Linked DNA regions of Homo sapiens. The protein of the gene in region 1 purifies or fractionates together with the protein of each later gene. This does not show direct contact. Each region holds a gene or a part of one and is shown in the gene's direction. Other genes may lie near its edges. The genes, in order: ZBTB38, IPO7, DHX36 and RPL26L1.

Region 1 (8,032 bases):
CTTTAAAAGAAAAGGCTGGGTGCAGTGGCTCACACCTGTAATCCCAGCACTTTGGGAGGCTGAGGCGGGCAGATCACGAGGTCAAGAGATCGAGACCATCCTGGCCAACATGGTGAAACCCCGTCTCTACTAAAAATACAAAAATTAGCTGGGCGTGGTGGCATGCACCTGTAGTCCCAGCTACTCGGGAGGCTGAGGCAGGAGAGTCGCTTGAACCCTGGAGCCGGAAGTTGCAGTGAGCTGAGATCATGCCATTGCACTCCAGCCTGGTGACAGAGCGAGACTCAATCTCAAAAAAAAAAAAAAAAAAGAAAAGAAAAAGAAAGAAAAGAAAAATACTAGAGCAGAACAGAATGCATCACACCTAGTAAGGGTGAGTGTTAATTTCATTTGTGTCTTAGGTCACTATGTACTGTGTATCTCTTACTGTGGGAAGTATGAAAGCTGCTACTTTTCACTGCCCCTCACTATAATATCAGTTAGTAAGCTTTAGCACACCAGACTCATGGAATAGGACTTATATAGAGAATATAGAAAATACAGAGAAGAATGGAGATGGGATCCTCAGACCAGAACAAGAGCCACTGTGCCTTGAAGTTGTGCTAATTCAGGAATCTATGACTAGATTCATTCTTGTCCGTTCTTGTCAAAGGACTTAGAAATGTCCTTTCCTGGTTTTACATTTTGTCTCCTTTTTAGTTGCCTTCAGTACCTGACAGTTCTTTTTGAAAACCCTAGTCTACTTTGTCTCTACTAAAGGGGAAACTAGAAAAGGAACCTGATGAGTCACCATAGGGCCAATAGCGCAGAGAGGCGGGGGTGCCCCTGGTGGTCAGACTTGGTTACACACCCTGCAACTCTAGAGATTGACCCTTATGAGCCACAAATTAGGAAGGGCTCCTTCAGTTCTTGCTTCTTCTCTGAGTGGGCAATAGCTTTGCATATAGGTACCACTTAAGGAAAATTCATTTAAAAAAATAGCCTGGGCAACATAGCGAAACCCTGTCTCTACCAACAATACAAAAATTAGCCGGGCGTGGTGGCTCTCACCTGTGGTCCCAGCTATTCAGGAAGCTGAGGTGAGAGAATCGCTTGAGCCGGGGAAGTGGAGGTTGCAGTGAGCGGAGACCACACCACTGCACTCCAGCCTGGGCAACAGAGCGAGACTTTGTCTCAAAAAAAAAAAAATCATTTTCCTGCTTCATGGTTGTGACTGGATCATCAGATTTCTCTTTGAAAATAGGCAGGAAGCTTCTGGCAGGACCATGGCATTGCCCAGCTCTAGTAGTTCAAAGCAGCAGCCTTGAATGATGATGAGACCCTTAACATTTCAGAAAAAAAAAAAAAACCTCCTCCCCTCCCAAATTTGGACATGTATATATAGCTCCAACTTTGGAGAAAAGGGGAAGGAGTTCTGGGAGGATTTCCAATGATAACAACTATTAGCAATGGTATGAGAAACAGGCTGGGGCAAGAAAAAGATTTAGCTTCTAATGTTGACTCTTGAGTCTCGGGAGCATCAACAGAATGAGATAAAAACCTGAAGTTTCATACAAAAGAACAGTTTTTCACAGAAGTGGAAAATAGTCTAGAGATAAAGAAGCCACCTGTGGAAGATTATCTGACCATTTCTCTCCTCTTGTTTCAGATGACAGTCATGTCCCTTTCCAGGGACCTCAAGGACGACTTTCACAGTGACACGGTACTCTCCATCTTAAATGAGCAGCGCATTCGGGGCATTTTATGCGATGTCACTATCATTGTGGAAGATACCAAATTTAAAGCCCATAGCAATGTTCTGGCAGCTTCAAGCCTGTATTTTAAAAATATCTTTTGGAGCCATACAATCTGTATTTCCAGCCACGTCCTGGAGCTGGACGATCTCAAAGCTGAAGTGTTTACTGAAATACTTAATTATATCTACAGTTCCACAGTCGTTGTCAAGAGACAGGAAACAGTCACTGATCTCGCAGCTGCAGGAAAAAAGCTGGGAATATCGTTCTTGGAAGACCTTACTGATCGCAACTTCTCAAATTCCCCGGGTCCCTATGTATTCTGTATTACTGAAAAGGGAGTGGTTAAAGAAGAAAAAAATGAAAAAAGGCATGAAGAACCAGCCATCACTAATGGGCCAAGGATCACAAATGCATTTTCCATCATCGAAACAGAAAATAGTAATAACATGTTTTCCCCGCTGGACTTGAGGGCAAGTTTCAAAAAGGTCTCCGACTCCATGAGAACAGCTAGCCTTTGCCTGGAGAGGACGGACGTCTGCCACGAGGCAGAGCCTGTCCGCACACTTGCCGAGCACTCATACGCTGTTTCTTCCGTAGCTGAAGCTTACAGAAGTCAGCCTGTACGTGAACATGATGGCAGTTCACCTGGTAACACAGGGAAAGAAAATTGTGAAGCCCTTGCAGCGAAACCGAAAACATGCCGGAAGCCAAAGACATTCTCCATACCACAGGATTCGGATTCAGCCACAGAAAATATACCACCCCCTCCAGTATCCAACTTAGAGGTTAATCAAGAAAGAAGTCCACAACCAGCTGCTGTTCTCACTCGTTCAAAATCTCCAAACAATGAAGGAGATGTCCATTTTTCCAGGGAAGATGAAAATCAATCTTCTGATGTTCCCGGGCCGCCAGCCGCAGAGGTTCCACCTCTGGTGTACAATTGTAGCTGCTGTTCCAAAGCCTTTGACAGCAGCACTCTGCTCAGTGCCCACATGCAGCTTCACAAGCCAACCCAGGAGCCTTTAGTGTGCAAGTATTGCAACAAACAATTCACCACCCTGAACAGGTTGGATCGGCATGAACAGATCTGCATGAGGTCAAGCCACATGCCCATTCCTGGAGGAAACCAACGCTTTTTAGAAAACTATCCTACCATTGGACAAAATGGAGGTTCATTCACAGGTCCAGAACCTTTATTATCTGAAAATAGGATTGGTGAATTTTCCAGTACCGGAAGTACTTTGCCAGACACGGACCACATGGTTAAATTTGTTAATGGGCAAATGCTCTACAGTTGCGTTGTGTGCAAACGTAGTTATGTGACCTTATCTAGCCTCCGAAGACATGCAAATGTTCACTCCTGGAGAAGAACATATCCTTGCCATTACTGCAACAAAGTATTTGCATTGGCTGAGTACAGGACAAGGCATGAAATTTGGCATACGGGAGAAAGACGATATCAGTGCATTTTCTGTCTTGAAACTTTCATGACCTACTATATACTCAAAAATCATCAGAAGTCTTTCCATGCCATCGATCATAGACTTTCCATCAGTAAAAAAACAGCAAATGGAGGCTTGAAGCCTAGTGTCTATCCGTATAAACTTTATAGGCTACTGCCTATGAAATGCAAGAGAGCCCCTTATAAGAGCTACCGAAATTCTTCCTATGAAAATGCACGAGAAAACAGTCAAATGAATGAGTCTGCACCTGGTACCTATGTTGTTCAGAATCCACACAGCTCTGAATTACCAACGCTGAATTTCCAAGATACTGTAAACACCCTGACCAACAGTCCAGCCATCCCATTGGAAACATCTGCATGTCAGGACATACCCACTTCTGCCAATGTACAAAATGCAGAGGGTACCAAATGGGGAGAGGAGGCATTGAAAATGGATCTTGACAATAACTTTTATTCAACTGAGGTGTCAGTTTCTTCCACTGAAAATGCTGTCAGTTCTGACCTCCGGGCAGGGGATGTACCTGTTTTATCTTTGAGTAATAGCAGTGAGAATGCCGCCTCTGTGATCAGCTACAGTGGCTCTGCACCCTCGGTCATTGTACACAGCAGCCAGTTTTCATCGGTGATCATGCACAGCAATGCCATTGCTGCCATGACCAGCAGCAACCACAGAGCCTTTTCAGACCCAGCTGTCAGTCAGTCCCTGAAAGATGACAGTAAGCCCGAGCCAGATAAAGTGGGTAGGTTTGCAAGCAGACCCAAAAGCATTAAGGAGAAAAAGAAAACTACATCACATACCAGGGGAGAAATACCGGAGGAGTCAAACTATGTTGCTGATCCTGGAGGATCACTGAGCAAAACCACAAATATTGCTGAAGAAACCAGCAAAATTGAAACCTACATTGCAAAACCTGCTCTGCCGGGAACCTCCACAAATAGTAATGTTGCACCCCTTTGCCAAATAACAGTGAAAATTGGAAACGAAGCCATTGTGAAAAGGCACATTCTAGGATCTAAATTGTTTTATAAAAGAGGGAGAAGACCCAAGTATCAGATGCAGGAGGAGCCTTTGCCACAGGGGAATGACCCAGAACCCAGTGGAGACAGCCCACTCGGGCTTTGCCAATCCGAGTGCATGGAGATGAGTGAAGTGTTCGATGACGCAAGTGACCAGGATTCCACTGACAAACCGTGGCGCCCTTACTACAACTACAAACCCAAAAAGAAATCCAGACAGTTGAAAAAAATGAGGAAAGTCAACTGGAGGAAGGAGCACGGAAACAGGAGCCCGAGCCATAAATGTAAATACCCAGCAGAACTGGATTGCGCCGTGGGGAAGGCTCCTCAGGATAAACCCTTTGAGGAAGAAGAAACTAAAGAGATGCCCAAGCTGCAGTGTGAACTCTGTGATGGAGACAAAGCAGTGGGGGCTGGAAACCAAGGAAGGCCCCACCGACATCTTACTTCTCGGCCATATGCCTGCGAGCTCTGCGCCAAGCAGTTCCAGAGCCCTTCCACACTCAAAATGCACATGAGATGTCACACCGGGGAGAAGCCATACCAGTGCAAGACCTGCGGACGGTGCTTTTCGGTGCAAGGAAACTTACAGAAACATGAACGCATCCACCTGGGCTTGAAGGAGTTCGTCTGTCAGTATTGCAACAAGGCATTCACCTTGAATGAGACCCTCAAAATCCATGAAAGAATCCATACTGGAGAAAAGCGTTACCACTGTCAGTTCTGCTTTCAGAGATTTTTGTATCTCTCCACCAAAAGGAATCACGAGCAGAGGCATATTCGGGAGCATAATGGGAAGGGCTATGCCTGCTTCCAGTGCCCCAAAATTTGCAAAACAGCTGCTGCCCTTGGAATGCACCAAAAGAAACACTTATTCAAAAGCCCAAGTCAGCAGGAGAAAATAGGTGACGTGTGCCACGAAAACTCAAATCCCTTGGAGAATCAACATTTCATTGGTTCAGAAGACAATGACCAAAAGGATAACATACAAACCGGTGTGGAAAATGTTGTCCTTTGAGTGGCAAGAATTAGAAAAATCTTCAAAAATATAGTTGGTGGTTTTTTTAGTTATGATTTAAGTTTAGTTTCATTTTGTCCATGTGACAGTCATGAAGGAGTGAAATTAAAAAAAAAAAAAACTCATTTGTGAAAATTCCAGAAAAAGGATCCTAATATCTACTTTGGGTTTTAGCATTAACTTTATGCAAAGTGCACAAAAACAAAATAGCTGACTCCTCCAATATCCCAAGTTTCTTGTGAAAGTTAATAAAATTCTTAGCTGTGGTATTTCTACCAGTGAAAAAAGGAGTTTAATTTTAGCCTAGTTTAAAACTTTCTAATAATTGCTAATAAGAACTGGCTGCTGAACTGTCTTTAGTCACTGGAGAAAATAAGGGTCAGATATCCTGAAGATGGCATCTTCGTAAATATGTTACGTGGTAATAAGCTGTGTGACGGTCTTTATTCCCATCTGGCTTCTGCACTATTAAAATTTGTTTAAATTAATGGATACACATGAAATACTTAAACAATATAACTGAAATTATGTGCATAATGAGTAACCTAAAGTAGGACATTCATACATTATGTAGAACTACTTTTCTGCAACACAAACCTTGTAAAATACATATATAAATCACTATAACTTTTAACTGTCCATATCCCCTGTAGAGAATTATGAGGAGCAATAGATCTGCAAATAATGAGGACTGATGTAAAAATCAATAGAAAGCATTTTGAATATGATTTAAGAGCATGTGAATGCTTTTAGATGGAATGCTGTTCCCTTGAAGTTATGGCTGAGCTGTTCTTAGAACTGGTCTACTCAATTCACAGAAAACATAGGTCATGCCTTATCTATGGGGGAACACCCTCCCAGAATTTACCTGTGATTACCTGTGCTGCATATTACTTTGCAATGGCCTCATCTCAGAGAATGAAAGAGGGTCACATTGTTCTGAAACTCTCTGCAGTCTTCCAACCACCACAAGGCCATGGATGTGGGGGTCTATTCCAGACAGACTTAAGGGCTCAAGTGGAACCTGCCATCTCCCATTCCACTGAAGGACTGTCCAAGAGATTTAGTGCAAGGTACACTGCAGTAGTGAATTCCCAGGCACTTGAAAGTGACTGCCTAATCCCTACAATTACTAGCCTTGTTGGAGATTATGCAGCCCACAAGTACAGACTAGTATAAAGCAAAAGGACAAAGGAACCCCCACCCTCCACCCCACCCATTAATGACTTGAGTGGGCAAGAAGAAGTGATGGCCTTCCTTGCCTAAAACAGTAGCTTTGTTTTTAGGGGGTGGGAAGGTAGGATGTGGAGTGACATGGTTCTATCCTTTACTTATGAGACTCAGAAATATATCTACAAAGCCAGATGCTCTGTCTTCATATTTGCAGACATCTAGACCCCTTGCTAAAAACCCACTGAAGTTTTTTTTTTATGTTCTTTGACCCACACCATCAACACTACCCTCAAATCTAATTGCCCTACAGCATATTCTATCATGTGGACTAGGTTCCTGGAAAGCCGGAACTCATGATTCTTTTTCAAACTGCCAGAATAGAAGGGAGAGAGAAAACATTTCTACCCTTTGATCACCAGTGTGAACAGAATCCGGAATGCAGTTTCAGCGTGACCTGCAGTCATTCATGTTCATTGGATTTGACAGATGGAAACCCAAGGTTATCGAAGATTGGAAGGTTATCATTGTGAAGAAGTAGCTCAAAGGACTCCGGTTTCTGTCTACAAGTGTGATGTCTCCATGAAGAAGACTTAGTATGGATTTGGGTGGGTAAGAAAGCATTTAAACGCCCAGGAAAGGACATGATTAAAGTTGACCTTTTAATACTGTAGTACCTTGCTGTTAAGTAACCCCACTATTGTATCTGCATTTATCTTTTGTTCATCTACTTTCACTTACATACAGTATTATATAAGTAGAGAAAAATGGGAAAATGCAAGCAAATTCAACTTTATTTTATACATTGTATATATGTACACCCTACACTATTCATTTGGGTTTTATTAAAGAGATAGTCACAAAGGGCTTACGAAAATCATTTTTGAATTGATAATTAGAATATTGAATAAGCAATCCTATGATCCACTAATTTGTTTTATCAGTTAATAATATTAATCAAAGACATTTACTGTATATTCTAGTCATTTTGATTTGAGTTAACCCCAAATATAAAATTACCTGTAGTGATGTCTCTCTCCCAGCCCTTATATGTGGATATTTTTTAAGTGGACTTGTATGCTGATAATTCTAGACCAAAGTAAATATGGCAGAATATTTATACATGAAAAAATAATTTTGCAAATATTTTCTATAATTGTATTCATTTAAAATGTTGATAGCTTGTGTTAGTTTCAGGGAGGGGTGTATATTTTGATAAAAAAATACTTGACTTTGTAATTCTGTATATTCTATACAATTTATAGCAGAGCCGTTTTAAGACAGCCTTGTCACATTTTTTTGTTAATTGTGAAAATTTTATTGAGTGATGTTTAAGTATGCATTGAGTACATGACCAACTAGAATTAAAGTAAGTGTAAACAGTGAACATACTGTATGCTGTACAAGATATAATGTAACTTGCTGTTTTAGCATCTGTATTTTGGTTAGAAGATATTATTAAATGCAGATGTTAAGGATTGGAAAAGTCTAATTTTATTTTTAGAAATAATGGATATAAATTTGTTTTTGCTTGATTAAAATAGCTTATTCCTACATTAAGTCTCTTTTTAAATGTTTTCATGTTATTTCTTTTGTGCAGCTATTTCATCTGTGTGAGTCACAGCT
Region 2 (8,032 bases), on another chromosome or scaffold:
TTTTTTACTGCCAATTATATTATTTATATTAATATTCTGGGAGCAGAGATATACCTATACTATCTACATTTCTATTCCTGAACACTTATTCATATGTTTATACTCATCTAGTTTTCACTAGCCTTCAAGTCCATGTTCATTTCTTGTCTGGAGTTTATAGGGCAACATTTGCCCTCAACAGGCTGCCTCTTCCTCCCTCCGTTCCTCTCTCCCCTACTGGTTTTTTGTGTTATTGTTGTTTTCTTTTTTAAAGAGAAAAGGGTTTCCTAGAAATGTCAACATCTTAGCTTTTTGTAGTTCTTTACGTGAGAAAGGTTAGGTGTTTTAGCTACCACCTGTGTATGAGAAGTTAGTGGTTGTCAACTTGCTGTAATCCAGAATGGCACTACAGGATAGGTGCTTTGATCACAAAGACCAAGATGCCAGAGGGCTAGACTATGAAAGATAGGAGGCAGACAGCTCCAGATCCTCACAGCTATCCAGATCCTTTAGTCTTTCATCTGTGCAATGAACATTGCAGTTATTCATATTAATTAGGGTACCTCAAGTAATACTCAGAGCCTGTACACAGGGTAGGAAATTGTTTCCTTGATTTAGATACCTGATTTAAAGGATAAAGCCTTACTGCAATTTATATTCTGTTTTGATCAGGTTCTTACAGGAGTTGCAGGAGAAGATGCAGAGTGTCATGCAGCAAAATTGTTAGAGGTCATCATTCTGCAGTGCAAAGGGCGTGGCATTGACCAGGTCAGTGAAGCTAATAATGATTTGTAGTTCAGAGGGGTAATCTTTTCCTTCCACTTTCTTTCTTCATTTTTTGGCATTTGTTGCATATTCTGTATGTTTTTGTTTATTGAGACATCTAGACAACTAATATTTTTAGTTCAAAATGTAACTAATATATAATAATGATCATATGTTTAATGTACAGGAATTGGACTAAGTTTTATGGCTACTTTGTTATCATGAAAGGTAAACTTTTGCTTAAGATTTTTTGGATAGCTTTAGTAATTAAATATCCATGGTCAGTTTTTTTGTTTGTTTGTTTTGTTTTGTTTGTTTTTTGTTTTTTGTTTTTTTTGAGTGAGAGTCTTGCTCTGTTGCCCAGACTGGAGTGCAGTGGCACATTCTCTGCTGACTGCAACCAGATTCAAGCAGTTCTCCTGCCTCAGCCTCCCAAGTAGCTGGGATTACAGGTATACACCACCACAACCGCCTGATTTTATATATATATATATATATATATATATTTTTTTTTTTTTTTTTTTTTTTTTTTTTTTTTTTGAGACGCTGTCTCGCCCTGTCGCCTAGGCTGGAGTGCAGTCGCGCAATCTCAGCTCACTGCAACCTCTGCCTCCCAGGTGCAAGCAGTTCTCTGCCTCTGCCTCCTGAGTAGATGGGATTATAGGTGCCTGCCACCACACCTGGCTAATTTTTTATATTTTTAGTAGAGAAGGAGTTTCGCCATTTTGGCCAGGCTGGTCTCAAACTCCTGACCTCAAGTGTTCTGCCCACCTCAGACTCCCAAAAGTGCTGGGATCGCAGGCATGAGCCACGTCACCCGGCCCACGGTCAATTTTAATAGGAACTTGTGAAGCCATGATTGATATCATCGTGAGCTTTTATTTATTTTTTATTTATTTCATATATTTTTTTGAGACAGAGTCTCGCTCTGTCGCTCAGGCTGGAGTGCAGTGGCGCGATCTCAGCTCACTGCCTCTGCCTCCCAGGTTCACGCCATTCTCCTTCCTCAGCCTCCCAAGTAGCTGGGACTACAGGCACCCGCCACCACGCCTGGCTAATTTTTTGTATTTTTAGTAGAGACGGGGTTTCACTGTGTTAGCCAGGATGGTCTTGATCTCCTGACCTCGTGATCCGCCTGCCTCAGCCTCCCAAAGTGCTGGGATTACAGGCGTGAGCCACCACTCCCGGCCCGTCGTGAGCTTTTAATAGCTCCATGAAGACTACTAGACTTTCTCTAAAATTAGATTTCCCAGTGCAGTGCCTCAGCAGTAAATATTGGTCATCTAATGCTACAATAGGGTTAATTGAGGCAACAAAGAAGTTAATATTTTTAGAATGTTTGCATGCTATTAATTATAGTCTTAGAATATCTTGCTATCTTTTTTTGTAGTGCATTCCCTTATTCGTGGAAGCAGCCTTAGAAAGACTGACAAGAGAGGTTAAGACAAGTGAACTTCGAACTATGTGTCTGCAAGTTGCAATTGCAGCTTTGTATTATAATCCACACCTACTACTCAATACCTTAGAAAATCTTCGCTTCCCTAATAATGTTGAACCAGTTACAAATCATTTTATTACACAGTGGCTTAATGATGTTGACTGTTTCTTGGGGTAAGTGATGTATTGCAATTTTACTACATTTGCTTTGGGAGGAACTCTGCTTATTTAAGAAAAGAAAACAGTTTTTTTTTTTTTTTTTTTTTTTTTTTTTTTTAGGCTTCATGACAGAAAGATGTGTGTTCTCGGACTCTGTGCTCTTATTGATATGGAACAGATACCCCAAGTTTTAAATCAGGTTTCTGGACAGATTTTGCCGGCTTTTATCCTTTTATTTAACGGATTGAAAAGAGCATATGCCTGCCATGCAGAACATGAGAATGACAGTGATGATGATGATGAAGCTGAAGATGATGATGAAACCGGTAAGGGATTTTCAATGGAAGAAGACAAAACTTATCTACTTAGAAATATTACCGCACTGGGCCGGGCGCAGTGGCTCAGGCCTGTAATCCCAGCACTTTGGGAGGCTGAGGCAGGTGGATCACACGGTCAGGAGTTCGAGACCAGCCTGGCCAGTATGGTGAAACCCCACCTCTACTAAAAATACAAAAATTAGCTGGGTGTAGTGGTGGGCACTTGTAGTCCCAGCTACTTGGGAGGCTGAGGCAGGAGAATCGCTTGAACCCATGAGGCGGAGGTTGCAGTGAGCCAAGATTGCATCACTGCACTCCAGCCTGGGTAACAGAACGAGACTCCATCTCAGATTAAAAAAAAATATATATATATATCACTAGCCCTTCTCCCAAATAAATGTGGGATCATACCCAAATGCTTTCATTCACAGAAAAGACTTCCTTTCTTCTCACTAGAGTGATGTAATCAGGAACTTCAGCTGTATTACCAACATGTAGAACAGTTCAAACCATTATAGTATGCAACCAACAAAGATTTGTTTATTTTACACATTCTCAGCACTGTAGATACAAAGATGAATGAGATGTCATGCAGTTCTTCAAAAGTTTTCTATCCGACTGTGGGAAAGTATTACAAAGCCAAATAATTATGTATATAATAATAGAGTTGACACGAAGTGCTGAGTCCACTTAAGAGCGAGAGATTATAGTTCCCTTTTTTATATGGTGGCATGAGCCTATAGTCCCAGCTACTTGGAAGTCTGAGGTATCAGATTCGCTTGAGCCCAGGAGTTTGATTCCAGCCTGGGTAACATAGTGAAACCCCAGTTTTTTGTTTTTTGGCTTTTTTTCCTTTGAGACGGAGTTTTGCTCCTGTTGCCCAGGCTGGAGTGCAACAGCGCGATCTTGGCTCACTGCAACATCTGCCTCCCGGGTTCAAGCAATTCTCCTGCCTCAGCCCCCCAGATAGCTGGGATTATAGGCACGTGCCACCATGCCCAGCTTATTTTTGTATTTTTAGTAGAGACAGGATTTCACCATGTTGGCCAGGCTGGTCTGGAACTCCTGACCTCAGATGATCCACCCTCCTGGGCCTCCCAAAGTGCTGGGATTACAGGCGTGAGCCACTGCACTGAGCCGTGAAACCCCATTTCTTTAAAAAAAGTTGTGGGGATTACATGAGGGAATCCTTGACGCTTAAATAGTGCTTGGCAGATGGCACTGAATTAACAGTATTAACAAAGGTACACATATCATTATAGTTACTATTACAAGATTTATGGGGGTTTTTTTTGTTTGTTTTTTTTTGTTGTTGTTGTTGAGACGGAATCTCGTTCTGTCGCCAAGCTGGAGTGCAATGGCAATCTTGGCTCACTGCAACCTCCGACTCCCGGGTTCAAGCGATTCTCCTGCCTCAGCCTCCCAAGTAGCTGGGATTACAGGCGTGTGCCACCACACCGGCTAATTTTTGTATTTTTAGTAGAGATGGGGTTTCACCGTGTTGGCCAGGGTGGTCTCAATCTCCTGACCTCATGATCTGCCTGCCTTGGCCTCCTAAAGTGTTGGGATTACAGGCGTGAGCCACCGCGCCCGGCGAATTATGGGGTTTTCATTTTATTTTTAAGCTTCTAAAGATTTATGGTCTTAATGTTGACTAAATTTATTGGAGACATCCATCCTATCATCTATTAATTCTAAAACCTAAGCATACTTGCACTATAACATTATGTTAATTAAATGTTGATAAATACATTTTATCTATAAGACTGTACACTATCAGTGTATAAATTGATAAAATATTAAGAGAAATTATTATAAGGGTTTCAACATAAGATAGCTATTGCTATTTTTGTCTTTTATCATTTACTAACTTAGCCAGCCTTTTAAAAAAAATCTTACAAAAGGTTTGGTGGGTGTAACGGTAGTGTGTTCATACTGCGCAGTTCTTTTTCAGATGTCTAGTATTAAGAACACATTAAATCAAGGTTGGTTTTCTTGGACTCCTATGGAAATTTTCATTTCTATTCATTATTGAACATGTATTTAAACACCAATTCCTGGAGCTCTCTCTTGTCACTTGTGACTTGTAATTTACTGACAGTGATTGAGATGATTGTCAATTTGTTGAGTAACAAAATATGTCATTGTTATAAAAGTACTTATATTATGACTTGGCAGAGGAACTGGGGAGTGATGAAGATGATATTGATGAAGATGGGCAAGAATATTTGGAGATTCTGGCTAAGCAGGCTGGTGAAGATGGAGATGATGAAGATTGGGAAGAAGATGATGCTGAAGAGACTGCTCTGGAAGGCTATTCCACAATCATTGATGATGAAGATAACCCTGTTGATGAGTATCAGATATTTAAAGCTATCTTTCAAAGTAAGTCAACTTGTTACATGTGGATCCATTTCATTGAACAAATCTGTTGTAGTTTCTGCCTGCCCTTTAAAGGAAGAGTTTGGAGGATATCAAACCCAGACTAGAAAAGGCTGGTTAGGCAAAGTAACCAAAATTATTTCTAAGGTTGCCATAGTTTCTGAGTATTCTTTATTCATCCTGTTATTTTACATTTAGATTGTAATTTTGGAAGATTATAGGAAAATAATGTAGTTCAAAAAAGTATACAGTGACAGTGCCTCTTTGCTACTTCTGATTCCCAATCTCCCAGCTTTCCTCAGAAGTAACCACTCTTACGTGTATACCTGTTTGTTGTATGTTATTATTTGTGTGTATCCTTTTTTCCTGCCCAAACCTATACTTAACGTGTTAAGAGTATATTAGCATTTATGGCATATGATCTTATAATTCTTTTTTTCCTATATTCTGTGATGTGTTAACTAATTTAATCTATTATTACTAAATTAGCACTTTCGGCATAATCAAATTTTTAGCTTTAAACAACTAATTTAACCTTGAGATTTTTGAATTATATATGCCTAGGATTCTGGAGCCACGTACACTGTTAAATATTCCAAGAAAAGTCCACTGTTCCTATAATGTGTCATTGTATGTGGCTCCAGAATACTAGGTTCTGGTTGGTTTTTACCATCATTTACTTGGATTTCAACAAGGTATAGCATTTGTGTTTTACCATCCACGTTAAGAAATTAAATTTCCCCTGTATTTGAAACATCTTTTCCTCTCAGAGTTAATTGCTGTTATATATCATTTCCTATGCACTGGGAACTGATGAATATATTTTTTGATAGAATACATTATCTGATAACCAAGGATTTGAGTCTTCTAAGCCCATGACAAGGCAGTTTTGATGCAAGGTTACAGAAGCACAAAGTGCTGGTTTCTGAGCTACATGGCAGCAAGAACTGATTGAGGTGCCAAACTTGTTGTTTCTGTGCCTTGTACTTTGTAGACAGACACCACATGTCAGTCCCTAAAGAATGGTTCCTAACACGGGGCCCATGTACCACAGTAGCCTTGATGATTTTCAAGTTGCTTTAGCTCTGAATCTTTTAAGATGGTTGGGTTAGCTTTATTCCTGAAGTCTCCCTGGTTTGTTACTTACTATATAAGAACTAGTTAGGCTGAGTCCTTATTTGCTGGAGAGATGGATCGTAAGAATGATTAGAGTTTTTGGAGCCATAAAGATAAGCTGTAGTTAATTTTTATTCCTATATCTGTTGTTTCACAAATATGGTAATTTTAAAAATTATTGGGAGAATATAAAATAGATCAGAATTTCAGTATTGCCTCGGGATGGAGTAGGAGGAATAGTGTAGAACGGAGCTACCAAGCCTCTCTTATTCATGTTGTTTTTCCCTTGTTTTTATTTTTTGATAGCTATTCAAAATCGTAATCCTGTGTGGTATCAGGCACTGACTCACGGTCTTAATGAAGAACAAAGAAAACAGTTACAGGACATAGCAACTCTGGCTGATCAAAGAAGAGCAGCCCATGGTATGTTAATTAACTGTAACTCCTCTTTAATTAGTGACTTTTATAGGTTTAAAATTTTATATCGTTTAATTTTATATCATTAAATTTTATCATTTAAGATGATATAAAAGGTATAGTTGTTGCAGGTGATAGGAATTAACTCTAATCTGAGGGATTTAATTCAAGATAACTTAATTTTGGCTTTGGCTACAGTTGGCTTTTTTCGTTTTTTTTTGTTTGTTTGTTTGTTTGTTTGAGATGGCGTCTTGCTCTGTCGCCCAGGCTGTAGTGCAGTGATGCGATGTCAGCTCACTGCAAGCTCTACCTCCCGGGTTCATGCCATTCTCCTGCCTCAGCCTCCCAAGTAGCTGGGACTACAGGCACCTGCCACTACACCTGGCTAATTTTTTGTATTTTTAGTAGAGACAGGGTTTCACTGTGTTAGCCAGGATGGTATCAATCTCCTGACCTCATGACCCGCCCGCCTCGGCCTCCCAAACTGCTGAGATTACAGGCGTGAGCCACCACACCCAGCCCCAGTTTGTTTATTTTTAAGTATAATTGGGCCAGGTGTGGTGGCTCATGCCTGTAATTCCAGCACTTTGGGAGGCCACGGTGGGTGGATTGCCTGAGCTCGGGAGTTTGAGACCAGCCTGGGCAACATGACCAAACTCTGTCTCTACTAAAATACAAAAAACTAGCCAGGCATGGTGGCACATGCCTATATTCCCAGCTACTCAGGAGGCTGAGGCAGGAAAATTGCTTGAACCTAGGAGGCGGAGGTTGCAGTGAGTTGAGATTGCACTACTGTTCTCCATCCTGGGCAACAGAACGAGACTCCATCTCCAAAAAAACAGAAACAAAAAAAACTAGAGAACACAGCCAGACATGGTGGCGCATGCTTGTAATCCCAGCTACTTGGGAGGCTGGGGCAGGCAAGTCCTTGAACCCAGGAGGCAGAGGTTGCAGTGAGCCGACATCACGCCATTGCACTGCAGCCTGGGTGACAAGAGCAAAAGTCTGTCTCAAAAAAACAAAAAAAAGTACAGTTGAAGACTACTTTCAGTTTGCAATAACTTTAGCTCATGGTGATGGTTAGATAGTAGAAAGTTCTGTTAAAAATGTAAACACCTAAGCCGGGCGCAGTGGCTCACACCTGTAATCCCAGCACTTTGGGAGGCTGAGGCGGGTGGATCACCTGAGGTTTAGAGTTCGAGACCAGCCTGACCAACGTGGAGAAACCCCATCTCTACTGCAAATACAAAATTAGCCAGGCGTGGTAGGCATGCCTGTAATCCCAGCTACTCGGGAGGCTGAGGCAGGAGAATTGCTTGAACCCGGGAGGTGGAGGTTGCGGTGAGCCGAGGTCGCGCCATTGCACTCCAGCCTGGGCAACAAGAGCGAAACTCCGTCTCAAAAAAAAAAAAAAAAAATTTAAACACTTGGCCAGGCGTGGTGGCTCATGCCTGTAATCC
Region 3 (8,530 bases), about 13 Mb from region 1:
GTCATGAGGATTGTGTGAAATGAGATAAGGAATTGTATTACTTTTCTAGTGTAGCCATAAGAAATTACTACAGTCTTAACTAACACAAATTTACTATCTTACAGTTCTGTAGCATAATGTTTTGACAAGAGTCTTCACTGGGCTAAAATCAAGGGGTCAATATGGTTGTATTTCTTTTTATTTATTTATTTTTCTTCCTGTTAGATGAGCAATGTGCCGATGTCATAACAAGGTTCGAGGGTGGCACATCTCACACATGTGCACGAATACCCAATCATCATGCTCATGAACTGCAAAAGGATCAGTATGGTTGTATTTCTTTCTGGAAGCCCTGGGGGAGAATCTATTTTCTTTCCAGTTTCTAGAGGCTGCCTGAATTCTTTTGCTTGTGACCCCTTCCTCCATCTTCAAGGCCAGCAACAGCTAGTCAAATCCTTATGTCACATCACTATGACCTTCTGTTCTACCACCCTCTTTCACTTTTAAGGACCCTTATGATTACATAGGGCTCACCCAGATAATTCAGGATATCTTCCTGTTTTAAAGTCAGCTGCATTCATCAGGTTTCCCAGAGAAACAAAACTAATAGGACAGATATAGATACACAGAAACTGAGCTATATCATGAGAGATTGGATCACATGATTATGGAGACTGAGAAGTCCCACAATATACTTTCTATAAGCTGGAGACCTAGGAAAGCTGGTGGTGTAGTTCTAATCCAAGCCTAAAGGCTTGAGAACCAACAGTGCTGATGTCCAAGAACAGGAGATGGATGTCATAGCTCAAGAGGAGAGAGTAAATTAGCCTTCCACCTTTTCATTCTACTTGGGCCCTTAATGGATTGGATGAAGCACACTTACATTGATGAAGACGATCTTCTTTAGTCAGTCTATGAATTCAAATGCTAATCCCTTCCAGAAACACCCTCACAGACCTACCTAGAAATAATGTTTTACTGGCTCTCTGAGCATCCCTTAGCCTAATTAAGTTGACATATAAAATTAATTATCACATCGGCTGATTAGCAACCTTACTTTGCCCTGGCCATGTAATATATTCACAGTTTCCAGGGAGTTTCCATGAACATCTCAGCCAGGCACAGTTGCTCACACCTGTAATCTCAGCACTTTGGGAGGTTGAGGTGGGAGGATCACTTGATCCCAGAAGTTCAAGACCAGCCTGGGCAACATAGCAATACCTCATCTCTACAGATAATAATAATAAAAAAAATAGCCAGGCATGGTGGTGTACACCTGCAGTCCTAGCTACTTGGAAAGCTGAGGTGAGAGGATTGCTTGAGTCTGGGAGGTCGAGGCTGTAATGAGCCATGGTCATGCAACTGCACTCCATCCTGTGCAACAGAGTGAGAGCCCACCTCAAAAAAAAAAAAAAAAAAAAAAGACAAGGACATCTTTGGGGCCATTATTCTGCCACAAATGCCTGCCACTTAGTCTAATACCTAGCAAATGCTAAGTGACAAATAAACACTAATTCTCTTCCCCTCTGACTCTCCATATTAGTCTGTTTGTGTTGTCATAACAAAACGCCACAGCCTGGGCAGCTAAAACAACAGAAATGTGTTTCTTAAAGTCTGGAAACTAGGAAGTCCAAGATCAAGGTGCCAGCTAATCCAGTTCCTAATGAGAGCTGTCAGCGAAGAGTCAAACTCTAAAACATTTGAAGAGATTTATTCTGTGCCAGATGCTAATGTCCATGGCCCATGACACAGTCCCAGGAGATACTGAGAACATGTATCCAAGGTGGTCAGGGTACAGCTTTGTTCTATATATTTTAGGGAGACATAAAACATCAATCAATACATGTAAGATGCACATTGATTCCATCTGGAAAGGTGGGACAACTCAAAGGAGGAGGGAGTTTTCCAGGTCACAGGTGAATTCAAAGATTTCCTGATTGATTGAAAGAGTTTATCTAAACACCTGGAAACAACAGAAGGGACTGTCTGGGTTAAGATAAGGAGTTGTGAAGACCAAGGTTCTTATTATGCTGATAAGACCTCCAAGGTTGCAGGCTTCAGAAAGAATAGATTGTAAATATTTCTTATTCAACTTAAAAAGGTTCCAGACTCTTAGTTAATCCTCTTCTGGATCATGGAGAAGAAATGGAAAGGGGGAAGGAGGTTCTCTACAGAATGTAGATTTTCCCCATGAGAGACAGCTTTGAAGGGCCATTTCAAAATATGTCAAATAAATATATTTTGGGGTAAAATGCTTTCTTTCAGGGCCTACTACTATGTTGACATCATATTGCTACAAAGAGTCTGTTCTGTCAGTCTTAAGGTCTCTGCTTCAATGTTAATACTGGTCAGCTGTACCTGATTCCAAAGGAAGGAAGGTATAATGAGGCATGTCCAACCTCCCATTCCCATCATGGCCTGACCAAGTCAGGTTTACTTTAGGATGCTTTTGGCTTAGAGGACGGGTCCATTCAGTTGGTTGGGAGGGCTTCCAATTTTATTTTGGGGCAATGTGCGGTGGCTCACACATGTAATCCCAGCACTTTGGGAGGCCGAGGCAGGAGGATTGCTTACACCCAGGAGTTCAAGGCCAGACCAGCCAAAATAGGAAGACCCCATCTCTACCAATCTTTTTTTTTAATTAGCTGGGTGCGGCAGTACGCGTCTATGGTCCCAGCTACTTTAGGGGGCTAAGGTGGGAGGATCACTTGAACCAGGGATGTTGGGGCTGCAGTGAGCCATGACTGTGCCACTGCACTCCATCCTGGGTAACAGAGTGAGACTCCATCTCAAAAAAAAAAAATGTATTTTTGGTTTACAGAGCTATTCCTGGAGCATGGATGGCTGCTGTTTTGTCCTCACATGGCCTTTCGTCTGAGAGGGAGGAACAAGCTCTCTGATGTCTCTTTTTAAAGGGCACTAAACCTATTATCAGGATCTCACCTTTATGACCTCATTTTGCTTTAATTACATTTTTTAGAGGCCTCTTCTACAGCCATATTGGGAGTTAGGGCTTCATCATGAATTTTGCATGAACACAAAGATTTAGCCCATAACACTCTCACCATTTTCTTCCCACTTTGCCCCTATCATCTTCAGTATGCCTACTCAATCTCATCTCTTAGACAGTTGACATATTTTTCACATCAGGAGTGCCCAATTGGGATGCTTTTATAGAAACTATTCATTCCTACGGCCTTAATCACATGTGCCAAGGACTCCCAAAACATATAATTTCAGTCTACTCTCTTTGTACTTTTAACGTTTCAACTTTTCTTTTTTCTTTTTTTTTTTTGATGGAGTCTAGCTCTGTTGCCCAGGCTGGAGTGCAATGGGACAATCTTGGCTCACTGCAACCTCCATCTCCTGGGTTCAAGTGATTCTCCTGCCTCAGCCTCCTGAGTAGCTGGGATTACAGGCATGCACCACCATGCACAGCTAATTTTTGTATTTTTAGTAGAGACGGTTTCACCATGTTGGCCAGGCTGGTCTCAAACTCCTGGCCTCAAGTTATCTGCCCACCTTGGCCTCCCAAAGTACTGGGATCACAGGTGTGAGCCACCACACCTGGCCTCTGTGCTTTTAACTCTTACAGCCTGCTTTCTAGATACTCCATTTGTATGTTTCATAAGTTCCTCAAAGTCCACATGTAAAAATAAAACACATTAACTTGCCCTGCCCCTCACCCCCAAAATGTTCCTTGTCCTGTGTTTCTCATCTCAGGATACAATGTGCCTCCCCATGGGTTAATAATTCAAATCTTAAACTTGGAGTCGTTTAACCCTTCCAATTCTCCACATTCAATGAATCATCAAATTTAAGTAATTTTATCTTCTAATGTCTCCTGATTCCAATTCTTTCCACATGTAATGCCCTGTCATCCCATTTTGCCTCCCCTACATCACATTAACTAGTTTCCCTGTATCCACTCTTGTCTCCGCTATTTATTTCCAATTGAAGCAGTCAAAATAACCACTGCTCTGCATAAACATATCACTGTTCTTTAAGTGGCACATAAGTTTTCCATAATCAGACCCCTATCTACCTCTTTGGCCTTCCCCATCAGGCTTTAAGATTCAGGGTAGTTGTTTTAAGTTCTCCGATGTCTCACATCATTATCTGTCTTTACACATTGTTCCTTTCACCTGCCATACTTTTCTTCTGCCCATTAGTCTGGCAAAAGTCTACTTATCTCAAAAGTTGTTGCATAACTCACCTAACTCCAAAATTAAATTCTTTTGCTGTAGTATCTCTTGGCTCTTAGGGAGGAAATACTTTTTGTCTACTTTCTTAGATTCAGTGTTTGCAGGCCCCAGACTTAAAGTGACAAAACAGATTAGCAAAAGAAAAGACAGACTTAACCACATACATAATAGAGTTCACAGAAAAAGGTGATTCAGGGAGGTAGAGTTCTGACTTATCTACCATCTTATAAAGGGAAGGAAAGGGGAAAACAGCACGTATGGAAAAAACAAATGACTTTTAGTAAAAATAAATGACACCTTAAAACAGATGCCAGATATGATAGCTTTGTGACAATGTCTATTCAAGTGTGTTGCCAGCTTCTAACCTCCAGTGATAAGAGTCAGTCTTCCTGGGTTTCCCTCCCAGGGAGGAGCTTGATTTGAATTCCTCCGTGTGGTTCTGCATTTAGACAGGTAGATTTCAGAAACTCAAATGTCTTTGCTCAAAATAATTTTTAGGCCACAATGGTGTATTGTAGACCCCTTCCTGGCATACAGCATTTCCCTTTCTTAATTCACTGCACAAAGATAGCCTTTGTCTTTCCCTTAAGACTGTAGGCAAATAAAAGCTCATGCCATACTTGCTTTGTTCAGTGAGTATTCCCAGCACCTTTACATCAGTTAACTGTAACATGAGCTGGATATCTCCTGGTGTACATCCAAGCCTGTGTGGCCCAATTACTTGATTATTCAAGAACAGCTTGTACAAAACACTCAGTGTGCTGGTTAATAAACAGTATGTGGCTTCATATGAACACATGAATCTTCAAAGTAGTTTATTTACATTGCCTAAGAGCTCTGCACCGAATTTGGGTAGACACGCTCATCTTAACACTATTGGATAAACGTACTAAATAGTGACAACACTTTCAAGGAGGTAAGGGGATTTTAAATTACATATTTGAATAGTTGTCAGGCTGTTTTCAAGACTAGAAGAACTCATTTTTTAGAGACTTTTCTTTAGAAGACGGCGAATTGATCCAAGGGTTCTTTTGTTTCAATCAACGTTTACTACCCTAGGACCTAAGTGCAAAAAAACTGCGGATTTACCAGGAATAAGAAAGTAAAAACCAAAAGCTATTGGCTCACTTGCTGGGCCTAGGGAAAGAAAATCTACGAGCCTTTGGCTGGCTGTTGCTCCAGAGGTACAAAGATAAACAACTCGGGGGCTCAGACAGAACCTGATCCCTGCCACCCTCCAGACCACCGGGGTCGTCCTCCCGTGACGTCACCAGAAACCACTGCTTGTGACGCTAAATGGCCCGCCCTCTTGTGCGGTGCTACGGAAGCAAAACGGAAGTGGGCGCACAGTGGCTTCCGGGCCCGGACGCCATTTCCAGCGGTTGCTGGTTCTGACGGGTTGTAGTCTGCCAGGACAATGAGTTATGACTACCATCAGAACTGGGGCCGTGATGGGGGTCCCCGCAGCTCCGGTGGGGGCTATGGAGGGGGGCCAGCAGGGGGTCATGGAGGTAACCGAGGCTCCGGAGGAGGCGGCGGCGGCGGAGGGGGTGGTCGAGGCGGCAGGGGCCGGCATCCCGGGCACCTGAAAGGCCGCGAAATCGGCATGTGGTACGCGAAAAAACAGGGGCAGAAGAACAAGGAAGCGGAGAGGCAAGAGGTAATCTCGGATTCAGTAGTGGAGAGGATGAGGCAGCACAGGTTTTCTTCTCTCTCCCGCTGCCCCCTTTTTCTTGGTTTTGTTTCTTAAGTGATGCACGTGTTTTGTGAAATGTAAATGAGGCGCAAATATATTATGCTGGCGCTCCCCGTAGCGGGTGTACTGCGTAACATTAGCCATGCTCATCTGACCAAAAACAGGCAGGATTTATGCAGGCTGAATATATACTTTGCTTAAAGGACTTGAGAACTGTGACAAAGCAAATGTTAAGTTCACGTTCCAACCGAAATTAACTTTATTAGGAGTGTCGTTGTCGTATCTCTGGCCGTCCTTTCCCTTAGAATAATAATTGTCACTTTAAGGTCTTTGCCTGGTGAAGAAGCACATAGCGACCTTTCTACATTTGAGATAGGTTTGCGCGGAACAAAAGCAGGCAGACACTGTTTTGGATGTGGATCATTCAGAAAAATAGTCCAGCTTTTATTATTAGTGTTAAAATTATCTGCAAACCTAGGTTTTTGTTTTTTATGTTGGGGTGGAGAAATTTCTATTGATGAGCAGATTCTCTTTGAAAAGGAAAATGAAAGGAATCTCCAGAGATGATTTGGCTTACTCTCCTCTCTTCAGGTGATTGTCAGGTTGATTTGTGTCTTAAAGATCTGTAGTAAGGGAAACAAAGTTCTCCGAGTGACTAGTAAATAAAATTCTAATAAAAAATAATTTTTATCATTAAGCAGGAACTTTCTTAGTATAGGCCTTTGGTGACTTTTTAAAAGCACCTTATAAAATGTATTATAGAGTGTAATTAGATCATCATTTAGGCAACTTTTTTTTTTTTTAAGACAGGGTCTCACTCTGTCGCCCAGGCTGGAGTGCAGTGGCACGATCTTAGCTCACTGCAACCTCCGCCTCCCAAGTTCAAGCGATTCTCCTGCTTCAGCCTCCCGAGTAGCTGGGATTACAGGCGTCCGCCACCACCTCCGGCTAATTTTTGTATTTTTAGTAGAGACGGGGTTTCACCATGTTGGCCAGGTTGGTCTCGAACTCCTGACCTCAGGTGATCCACCCAACTCGGCCTCCCAAAGTGCTGGGATTACAGGCGTGAGCCACCACGCCAGGCCTAGACTACTATTTTTAAACCGTTCCATTTCTTTTTATTTCTTTTAACCATGTCATGTTCATTCAGGTGTTTTGGGGGCCTTATCCATTTATCTTCATAATTTAAACTTTTCTTTAAAAAACAAATCCATTTCTTTTACAGCCCCAAATTAACTTTTTCGTTGGGCATACTGGCTTGAAAATCAGGATACGGACGTCTAAGTAACTTTACAACTTTTATTTATTAAGGCTCTGTTTGAAACAAGGTTTTATGCATATTGCTCCAGGGACTTGAAGAAATGTGGTATTCAAAGAGCTTACAGTCTAGCTGAGAAAATAATACCTAAACAGATGAAAAGTTAAATAAGTCAGGAAAAAATGTTCATTATTGTTTCCACATGAAGGGTATAGCCAGTTGTGCAGTGGATGTTATGAATGGAACTTTTCATTTCTACTTGCGTTCCCATCCTCCTTTTAGTGGTGACACGACCATTTATTCACTTGGCAAGGCCAAATGAGATTTATCTTTGCTTCTTCCCCTTCATTTCAGCAAATCTCTGCCTTGTTAATATATCCCAATCTAACCACTTACCTCCAGAATAGTTACCATAGATCAAGCCACTGTTTGTTTTCTGTTCTTGCCTTCTAACTAGTCATCTAGCTTCCATTCTTGCTCTGCATTGTCTGTGCTTTACAGAGCCGCCTATGGTGATCTTTTAAAAGGAAAAATTAGATCATTTTATTACCTAATTCACAACTTCAGATTGGAAGTCATGTCACTTCTGTCTCAGTCTGATATATTTCAGTTGCATCTTGACATGTTCTCTGGAAATCTTGGTAATACGGCTTCAACGTAACAGGTTTACCGCTGTGCACATTTCTCTGAGCCCATGTCTCCAGTCTGATATAATTATAGTTTTTTTAGGCATACTTTATTTTTACTTTTCATTACAGTGTCATACTGTTCTCCTGTCCAAAATGTACCTTTCTTTCTTGTTTAAATAGGAGTATTTTTCAATGGGCTCGTCCCAGCTCTTCTTTGACCACCTTTAGCTTGATATCATTGTTTCCCAGTCAGAATTTCGGTAGCTTTCACTTTTAAAGTCATGTCATGTGTTTTCAAAATGAAGACTTTTTTTTTTTTTTTTTGAGTTGGAGTCTCACTCTGTTGCCCAGTCTGGAGTGCAGTGGTGTGATCTCGGCTCACTGCACCCTCTGCTTCCTGAGTAGCTGAGATTACGGGTGTGCACCACCACACTTGGCTAATTTTTGTATTTTTAGAAGAGACAGGGTTTTGCCATGTTGGCCAGGCTGGTCTTGAGCTCCTGACCTCAGGTGATCCACCAGCCCTGGCCTCCCAAAGTGCTGGGATTACAGGCGTGAGCCATGGCGCCTGGCTGAAAATGAATGCATTCTAATGATGCATTCTTGAACAAATGTTCTTTCAACAAATATTTATTGAGGACATTATTTTTGTGACAGTATCTTAAGCACTGTATTAATTAATAAAATAGATATAGGCTCTACAGAGATTGTGGTGTGTTTGGAGCGATAAATAGAATACAGTATTAAGGTATTAGAGAATATG
Region 4 (8,032 bases), on another chromosome or scaffold:
TTCCACAGAGTGGTATTATTTGCAAATCAGGTCCTATTTAAAACCTTTGGCAGGCTGGGCATGATGGCTCACGCCTGTAATCCTAGCAGTTTGGGAGGCCCAGGCGGGTGGATCCCCTGAGCTCAGGAGTTTGAGACCAGCCTGGGAAACATGGTGAAACTCCATCTCTACTAAAAATACAAAAAATTAGCCAGGCGTGGTGGTGCACACCTGTAATCCCAGCTACTCGGGAGGCTGAAGCATGACAATCGCTTGAACCCGGGAGGCGGAGGTTGCAATGAACCGAGATTGTGCCATTGCACTCCAGCCTGGGTGACAGAGTGAGACTCTGTCTCAAAAACAACAACAACAACAACAAAAAACGGCCAGGCACAGTGGCTCACGCCTGTAATCCCAGCACTTTGGGAGGCTGTGGCAGGCAGATCATGAGGTCAGGAGATTGAGACCATCCTGGCTAACACGGTGAAACCCATCTCTACTAAAAATATAAAAAATTAGCTGAGCGTGGTGGTGGGCGCCTGTAGTCCCAACTACTTGGGAGGCTGAGGCAGGAGAATGGCGTGAACCCGGGAGGGGGAGCTTCCAATGAGCCAAGATCATGCCACTGCACTCCAGCCTGGGTGACAGAGTGAGGCTCTGTCTCAAAAAAAAAAAAAAAAAAAAAAAATCCTTTGGCAGTTTTATATCTGCCAAAACTGACCTGTACATTTTACTGTATGTAAATGATGCCTCAGTTAAAAATAAAATGATTTCAAATTGTGTTCATTGCTATGAAGAAAATATAAAGGATGCTATGATATTGATTAAAGGACCTGGGAAGGCTTCTCTGAGGAACTAATACATTTAAGAGAAGACCTGAGAAATGAGGAGTTAGCCAGGTGCTTACCAATGGTGCCTGATGTGCTTATAAAATCTAAAATCATGGCCAGGCGCGGTGGCTCACGCCTGTAATCCCGACACTTTGGGAGGCTGAGGTGGGTGGATCACCTGAGGTCAGGAGTTCGAGACCAGCCTGGCCAACATGGTGAAACCCCACCTCTACTAGAAATACAAAAATTAGGTGTGGTGGCACACACCTGTAATCCCAAGTACTCGGGAGGCTGAGGCAGGGGAATCGCTTTAACCTAGGAGGTAGAGGTTGCAGTGAGCCAAGATTGCGCCACTGCACTCCAGCCTGGGCAACAGAGTAAAACTCGGTCTCAAAAAAAAAAAAAAAAATCTAAAATCATTGACTGCAAGGCCCTCTATGGGCCAATCCTGGTCTACTTCTCCATCCTCATCTCCTCCTAACCCCCATGTGCTCTACACTTTAACCACACTGGGCTTCTGGGGTCTTTAAATACACCTTGATCTTTTCTCCCGCTGGAATGTTCTCTCTGCCTGGAGTGCTCTTCCTTCTCTCCTTTACATAGGTAACTCCTCATTCTTCGGGTCCTACCTTAAATGTCCGTTCCTCAGAGAAGCCTTCCCAGATCCTTTAACCAATATTATAGCCTAGCATTCTTTATTTTTTCTTCGTAGCAGTAAGCACAATTTGAAATCATTTTATTTTTAACTGAGGCATAATTTACACACAGTAAAATGCACAGGTCAGTTTTGGCAAATGTAAAACCAAATAGCCATTACCCTAATTATGATTAGACCATTAAAAAGACCATTTTTAATCATCCCAGTAAGTTCCTATGTGACTTATTCCAGTTAGTGGTCATGTATTTGTCTATGTACTCATTAACTGCTTACTGGCCATCAGGCTAAGCTCCATGAAACCAGAGAGTTCATCTTGTTTGTTGTCTGACCTCAGTGCAGAGCCTGACACTTAGAGAGGAGAAGGGTCAGTCAATATTTGTTGAATGAATGAAAAAAATTTTTTGAGTAGGTAAGATGTAGAAGGTGAGACAGAGAAGGAGGGCAAAGAGGGAGAAGGAGCTGCTGTTAAATATATATATATTTTAAATTAGAGACATTTATTTATTTATTTATTTATTTAAAAATAGGTATTGCTTTGCTGCCCAGGCTGGTCTCAAACTCCTGGCTTCAAGCAATCCTTCTGCCTTGGCCTCCCAAAGTGCTGGGATTACAGGCATGAGCCACAGTGTCTGGCCTGTTGCCTTTTTTTTTTTTTTTTTTTTTGAGACAGAGTTTCACTCTTGTTGCCCAGGCTGGAGTGCAGTGGCACAATCTCGGCTCACTGCAACCTCTGCCTCCCGGGTTCAAGCCATTCTCCTCCCTCAGCCTCCCAAGTAGCTGAGATTACAGGCACACACCACCATGCCTGGCTAATTTTCATATTTTTAATAGAGACGGGGTTTTACCATGTTGGTCAGTCTGGTCTCGAACTCCTGACCTCAGGTGATCCACCCGCCTCAGCCTCCCCAAGTGCTGGGATTACAGGCGTGAGCCACCACGCCCGGCTGCCTGTTGCCATTTTTTGAATGCCTAAGAGGTATGAATTGTTTCAGCCAAAGGCCATGCTGGCTGAACACTTCTCCACCAGGAGAATAAAATAGCCCTGATTGGGTTTGTTAATATTGCCTCCTCTCACGGGATCTTCTGAATCTCACTTACCTTCCTCTTTCTCTGAGTAGGTGATGGTTCCTCCTACTTTACAGAGAAAATTGAAGTTATCAGCCAGGAACTTTCAGAAATCGTGGCTCCACACCTACACGTTTACCTGTAGTTCCACCCCTCTTATTTTCTTTCCCTTCTGTTACAATGAAAGAAATATCCCAGGCCTGGTGCAGTGGCTCACGCCTGTAATCTCAACACTCTGAGAGGCCAAGACAGGTGGATCGCTTGAGGCCAGGAGTTCGAGACCAGCCTGGCCAACATGGCGAAATTCCGTCTGCACTAAAAATATAAAGATTAGCTGGGCGTGATGGCACATGCCTGTAATCCCAGCTACAAGGGAGGCTGAGGCAATGAGATATCACTTGAACCCAGAAGGCGGAGGTTGTGGTGAGCCAAGATCACGCCACTGCACTCCAGCATGGGTAACACAGCAAGTCTCTGTCTCAAAAAAAAAAGAAAGAAATATCCCTGTTTCTGCCTAAGCCTAATCCATCTGCCACTGGGTGCTGCTCCATTCTTCTCTTGGAGCTTTTTTGGTCCCTTATCTTCTTTCTCTGTAGTTTCTTTTACCGTCTTCCTCCATACTTGTTCCTTCCATCAGCATTTAAACACAATCATGTTTTCCCTTCTTTAAAAATAAAAAATAAAGGAAAGTTCCCTTAGCTTTCCATCCCCCTCAAACATCTATCCCCTTCTCATCTTCAGAGCCAAGCTCCTTTGGACTGTCTTTTCTCACCTTCACCTTCTCACCTGGTACACTCATCACTTTACTGTTAATGGCCTCCATCCCAGCACTCAGTGAAGGCATTCCAGCCACAGCCACTGTTGATGACCTTGTTGTCAGATCTGTTAAATACCTTATCCTCTGTGTTCTTGACAGTCCCACAGAATTTGACATTCTCTTGGCTGCTGTAACACCACACTTGCATGATTTCCCATTCGCTCTGGCCACATTAATCTCTCACAAGCTCTTCCAAAATGCTGGCTTTTCTCACATGTGTACATTCTGCCCTTTTCTCATACCATCACTCCTTGAGCAACATGAAGCTCCTAATTGCCTCTCTGTGGATGACTCCCACGTCTCTATTGCTGGCCCAGTTGGCATTCCAGCTGTGTCTGAATTCTCTGTTAGAATGTCCCCAGATGCTTCAAATTTAGCATGTTCCAAACTAAACTATTTCCTCCTAAAATACGGGGCTTCCCCTATGATCTCTGCATCTGGCAATGGCATTGCCATCCACCTGGTTGCCCAAGCCAGACTCTGAGTATCATCCTTCCCTCTTCATCCTCACCTCTCCAGTCTAGTCGACCAGCCGACTTAGTCTTATCCTGTCTCCTGTCTTCCTCTTCACTATGTCCAGAGGTTGTCCACTTCTCTTTTTAAAAATTTTTTAAATTAATTTTTTATTTTATTTTATTTTGAGACAGGATCTCACTCTGTCACCCAGGCTGGAGTACAGTGGTGCAAAAACAGGTTGCTGCAGACTCAACCTCCTGGGTTCAAGTGATCCTCCCACCTCAGCCTCCCGAGTAGCTGGGATCATAGGCGCATGCCACCATGTCTGGCTAACTATTTTTTTTTTTTTTTTTTTTTTTTTTTTTGTAGAGACGGGGTCTTGCTATGTTGCCTCGGCTGGTCTCCAACTCCTGGACTCAAGCAGTCCACCTGCCTGAGCTTCCTAAAGTACCAGGATTACAGCTGTGAGCCACCATGCCCGGCCTAAGATCTTTCTTCAGTCTTGGCCAGGTGCAGTGGCTCACACATGTAATCCCAGCACTTTGGAAGGCCAAGGTGGGTGGATCTCTTGAGCTCAGGTGTTTGAGACCAGCCTGGGCAGCATAGTGAAACCCTGTCTCTTAAAAAAAGTGTGTATGTGTGTATTTCTTCAGTCTTGATGGTATTAACAAGACTTCTTCCAGGTGTGTCCTGAGAGTCTCTGGTCATGTAGTCTGTGGTAGATTTTTCACTGAGATATGATTGTCCTCTTCAACCTAAAAATCGCCTTGGAAAATAAGCCAAACAAGCTATACGTAGACATTTTAGGAGTATTGGGGTTCTCTAGTTCTTTATATGTGGTATCTCCTCTATGCTTATTAATCAGAGTCACATCGTACCTGGTGGTTTTTTTTTTTTGAGGCGGTGTCTCGCTCTGTCGCCAGCCTGGAGTGCAGTGGCACCATCTCAGCTCACTGCAACCTCCGCCTTCCAGGTTCAAGTGATTCTCCTGCCTCAGCCCCCCGAGTAGCTGGGTCTACAGGCGCCCACCACCACGCCCAGCTAATTTTTGTATTTTTAGTAGAGACAGGGTTTCACCATGTTGGCCTGGATGGTCTCGATCTCTTGACCTCATGATCCACCGGCTTTGGCCTCCCAAAGTGCTGGGATTACAGGTGTGAACCACCGTGCCCGGCCCCCATGCATGGTGTTTAATAAGCTCTTGTGGCTGGGCATGGTGGCTCACACCTGTAATCCCAGCACTTTGGGAGGCCGAGGCAGGCAGATCACTTGAGGTCAGGAGTTCGAGACCAGCCTGGCCAATATGGCGAAACCTGGTCTCTACTAAAAATACAAAAATTAGCCAGGCCTGCTGGTGCGTGCCTATAATCCCAGCTACTTGGGAGGCTGAGGCAGGAGAATCACTTGAACCTGGGAGGTGGAGGTTGCAGTGAGCCAAGATCATGCCAGTGCCCTCCAGCCTGGGGGAACAGAGCGAGACTCCGTGTCAAAAATAAATAAATAAATAAATAAGCTCTTGCTTTCAAGGAAACCCTAATCTAGTTGGTTTTTGAATAGAGTAGATTTTTAGTACAGTAAAACAGTCTGTGAGATTTAAAATTTTTTTTCTGACTTTAAAATATTTGTATTAAATGTAGAAATGTTGAAATTTAGAAGAATATAAATCTAAAAATCAGTCATCTGTAATCCTGCTTCCTGCCTAATGGCAGCTGTTACCAATATTTATATATATATTTTATCCCACTGTGTCATGCTATATATATGAAATGTGTGTGTATATATACATATATACACATATATACGTATGTATACACATATATGTATATATGACATATAAGTACATATATGTATGTATGACATATATGTATGTTACATATAAGTACATATGTGTATGTATATGATACGTGTATGTATATATGACATATAAATACATATACGCACATATGTAATATATATTATATATATACACACACACATACACTCATATAGTTTGAGTATCTCAAATTCAGAATGCTCCAAAATCTGAGACTTTGTCAACGTGATGGTCAAAGGAAGTGTTCTTTGGAGCTTTTGGGATTTCAGATTTTCAGATTTGGGGTGCTTAGCTAGTAATGCAGATATTCCAAAATCCCAAAAACCCTAAATCCAAAACACTTCTGGTCTCAAGCATTTCGAATAAGGGATACTTGACATATATATGTATATATATATAGTTCAGAGTATATTCTATATGTAGTTTTGTATTCTCCTTTTTCCTCTAAAGCTCATATCGCACATTTCTGTGGGATCCAGGTAAAAAATCTCCACCCAACCATAGCACAACACAGATTTATATCAGAAAAGTAGCTAATTTTTGACTGCCAGGATTAAGCTGCTTTTGACAAAGTTATATGTTTAGCCCATGTGTTCCTGATGGTTAGCTTCCTCTTTATGATCATGCACTACAAATGGAGGGGGATTCTCTTTTGTATTTTCTCTTAGGTAGTTCGAGGACACTACAAAGGTCAGCAAATTGGCAAGGTAGTCCAGGTGTACAGAAAGAAATATGTCATCTACATCGAGCGGGTGCAGCGTGAGAAGGCCAACGGCACAACTGTCCACGTGGGCATTCACCCAAGCAAGGTATGGTCAAGGACTGAGTGGCAGTAGCAGCCATGGAGTGTGTCAATACTGTTCAAAGTTATTGGTGTTTTGGTACTCCCTGCACAGTTGGCTGAGGCAGGCCAGGTGGACTTGATTGATTCAGTAGCTTTGTGATATCATCAAGGATCCAGATTTTTCTTCTCTTCTCTTTTCTGTTTTGCCTTTCTTGGTGATGGCTGTGTCTTTTTTTTTTTTTTTTTTTTTTTGAGACGGATGCTCGCTCTGTCACCAGGCTGGAGTGCTGTGGTGCGATCTCGGCTCACTGCAACCTCCACCTCCTGGGTTCAAGCAATTCTCCTGCCTCAGCCTCCCAAGTAGCTGGGACTACAGGCACACACCACCACGCCCAGCTAATTTTTATATTTTTAATAGAGATGGGGTTTCACCATGTTGGCCAGGATGGTCTCGATCTCCTGACCTCGTGATCCGCCCGCCTCGGCTTTCCAAAGTGTTGGGATTACAGGTGTGAGCCATCATGGCCGGCCGATGGCTGTGTCTTTAAGCTGGTTGCAAGAGGCTTCCAAGTGTTCTAGGCATCACTTCCCCTACCACATAATATTCAGAGGAATAAGAGAGAATATATCTTCCTGTAGCCCTCATGCCTACCTAGTGGAACATGCTATTTTTCCTTTGTGTTCCTATTTTGTATTGTGTTACAGGGTCTGTTTTCCTTCCAGAGTTTCAGTTCCTTAAAAGCTGAATGGCTGAGGTCTTACTTAACTTATGATGTCTATATTGCTCAATAGCTGGTGGGGATGCAGAAATAAAGACCTGTTTTCTCACTCCCAACAGGTGGTTATCACCAGGCTAAAACTGGACAAGGATCGGAAAAAAATTCTTGAACGCAAAGCCAAGTCTCGACAAGTTGGAAAAGAGAAAGGCAAATATAAAGAAGAACTTATTGAGAAAATGCAGGAATAAATAGAACCTGTTGTGCAACCACGGTTTAACCGGAGATTTTGAGGCTAGGGTGTGTTTCTTTCGAACTTTTCGGAATGTCTGGAACATTTCATTTCCTGTTTTGTTACCTGTGCCTCTGTAAATCTACTTTTGCAATTTTAAGTAATAATTTTATGAATAAAAATGGGAAATGCTTCCTAATTCCACATAGTATTTGCATTGTTTTATAAATAAATTCCACTTACTATCAATTCCCCTTTGCCAGTCTTTTCCTATTTAATGTGTGGAACAGCAAAATCGCAGGGGTAGGGTTAAATGGCCCTCCTCTTGCCTGGACTCTTGTGCTGATGAAGTAGAAAGGGCAGGGCTCTAGTCTTATATAGACAGGCCTCATCATCTTGCCCAGGCTGGTCCTGAACTCCTAGGCTCAAATGATCCTCCTGCCTTGGCCTCTCAAAGTGTTGGGATTACAGGCGTGAGCTGCCATGCTCTGGTCCTTGACACAGGGATTTGCCCCACTCAGTAGCAGTTGTAATGTGCACTGTCACATCTCACGCCTGACAGATTGCTCTCTGGCCTCCTGACTTGGGCTTCCCCAGCTTTCTCTCCAAGTGCCAACTAAACCAAATCATGTGCAGCTCCCTGACCAGGCTTATCTTCCCAAAGTTTTGACTTTGCAATTGC

The links.
Region 2: the proteins of ZBTB38 (region 1) and IPO7 purify together in Homo sapiens (affinity purification with mass spectrometry; 4 studies listed by BioGRID and IntAct, with this or other methods). This does not show direct contact.
Region 3: the proteins of ZBTB38 (region 1) and DHX36 purify together in Homo sapiens (affinity purification with mass spectrometry; 3 studies listed by BioGRID and IntAct, with this or other methods). This does not show direct contact.
Region 4: the proteins of ZBTB38 (region 1) and RPL26L1 purify together in Homo sapiens (affinity purification with mass spectrometry; 3 studies listed by BioGRID and IntAct, with this or other methods). This does not show direct contact.

Annotation. Positions count from the first base shown.
Region 1 is NC_000003.12:141,440,741-141,448,772, forward strand, and holds part of ZBTB38 (zinc finger and BTB domain-containing protein 38), read left to right. Parts: intron 1-1,648; coding exon 1,649-5,236; 3' UTR 5,237-8,032. UniProt on the Homo sapiens protein: Transcriptional regulator with bimodal DNA-binding specificity. Binds with a higher affinity to methylated CpG dinucleotides in the consensus sequence 5'-CGCG-3' but can also bind to E-box elements (5'-CACGTG-3').
Region 2 is NC_000011.10:9,435,620-9,443,651, forward strand, and holds part of IPO7 (importin-7), read left to right. Parts: intron 1-651; coding exon 652-747; intron 748-2,134; coding exon 2,135-2,355; intron 2,356-2,460; coding exon 2,461-2,666; intron 2,667-4,835; coding exon 4,836-5,042; intron 5,043-6,461; coding exon 6,462-6,578; intron 6,579-8,032. UniProt on the Homo sapiens protein: Functions in nuclear protein import, either by acting as autonomous nuclear transport receptor or as an adapter-like protein in association with the importin-beta subunit KPNB1.
Region 3 is NC_000003.12:154,321,488-154,330,017, reverse strand, and holds the start of DHX36 (ATP-dependent DNA/RNA helicase DHX36), read left to right. Parts: upstream 1-5,530; 5' UTR 5,531-5,601; coding exon 5,602-5,844; intron 5,845-8,530.
Region 4 is NC_000005.10:172,962,173-172,970,204, forward strand, and holds the end of RPL26L1 (ribosomal protein uL24-like), read left to right. Parts: intron 1-6,286; coding exon 6,287-6,427; intron 6,428-7,240; coding exon 7,241-7,369; 3' UTR 7,370-7,599; downstream 7,600-8,032.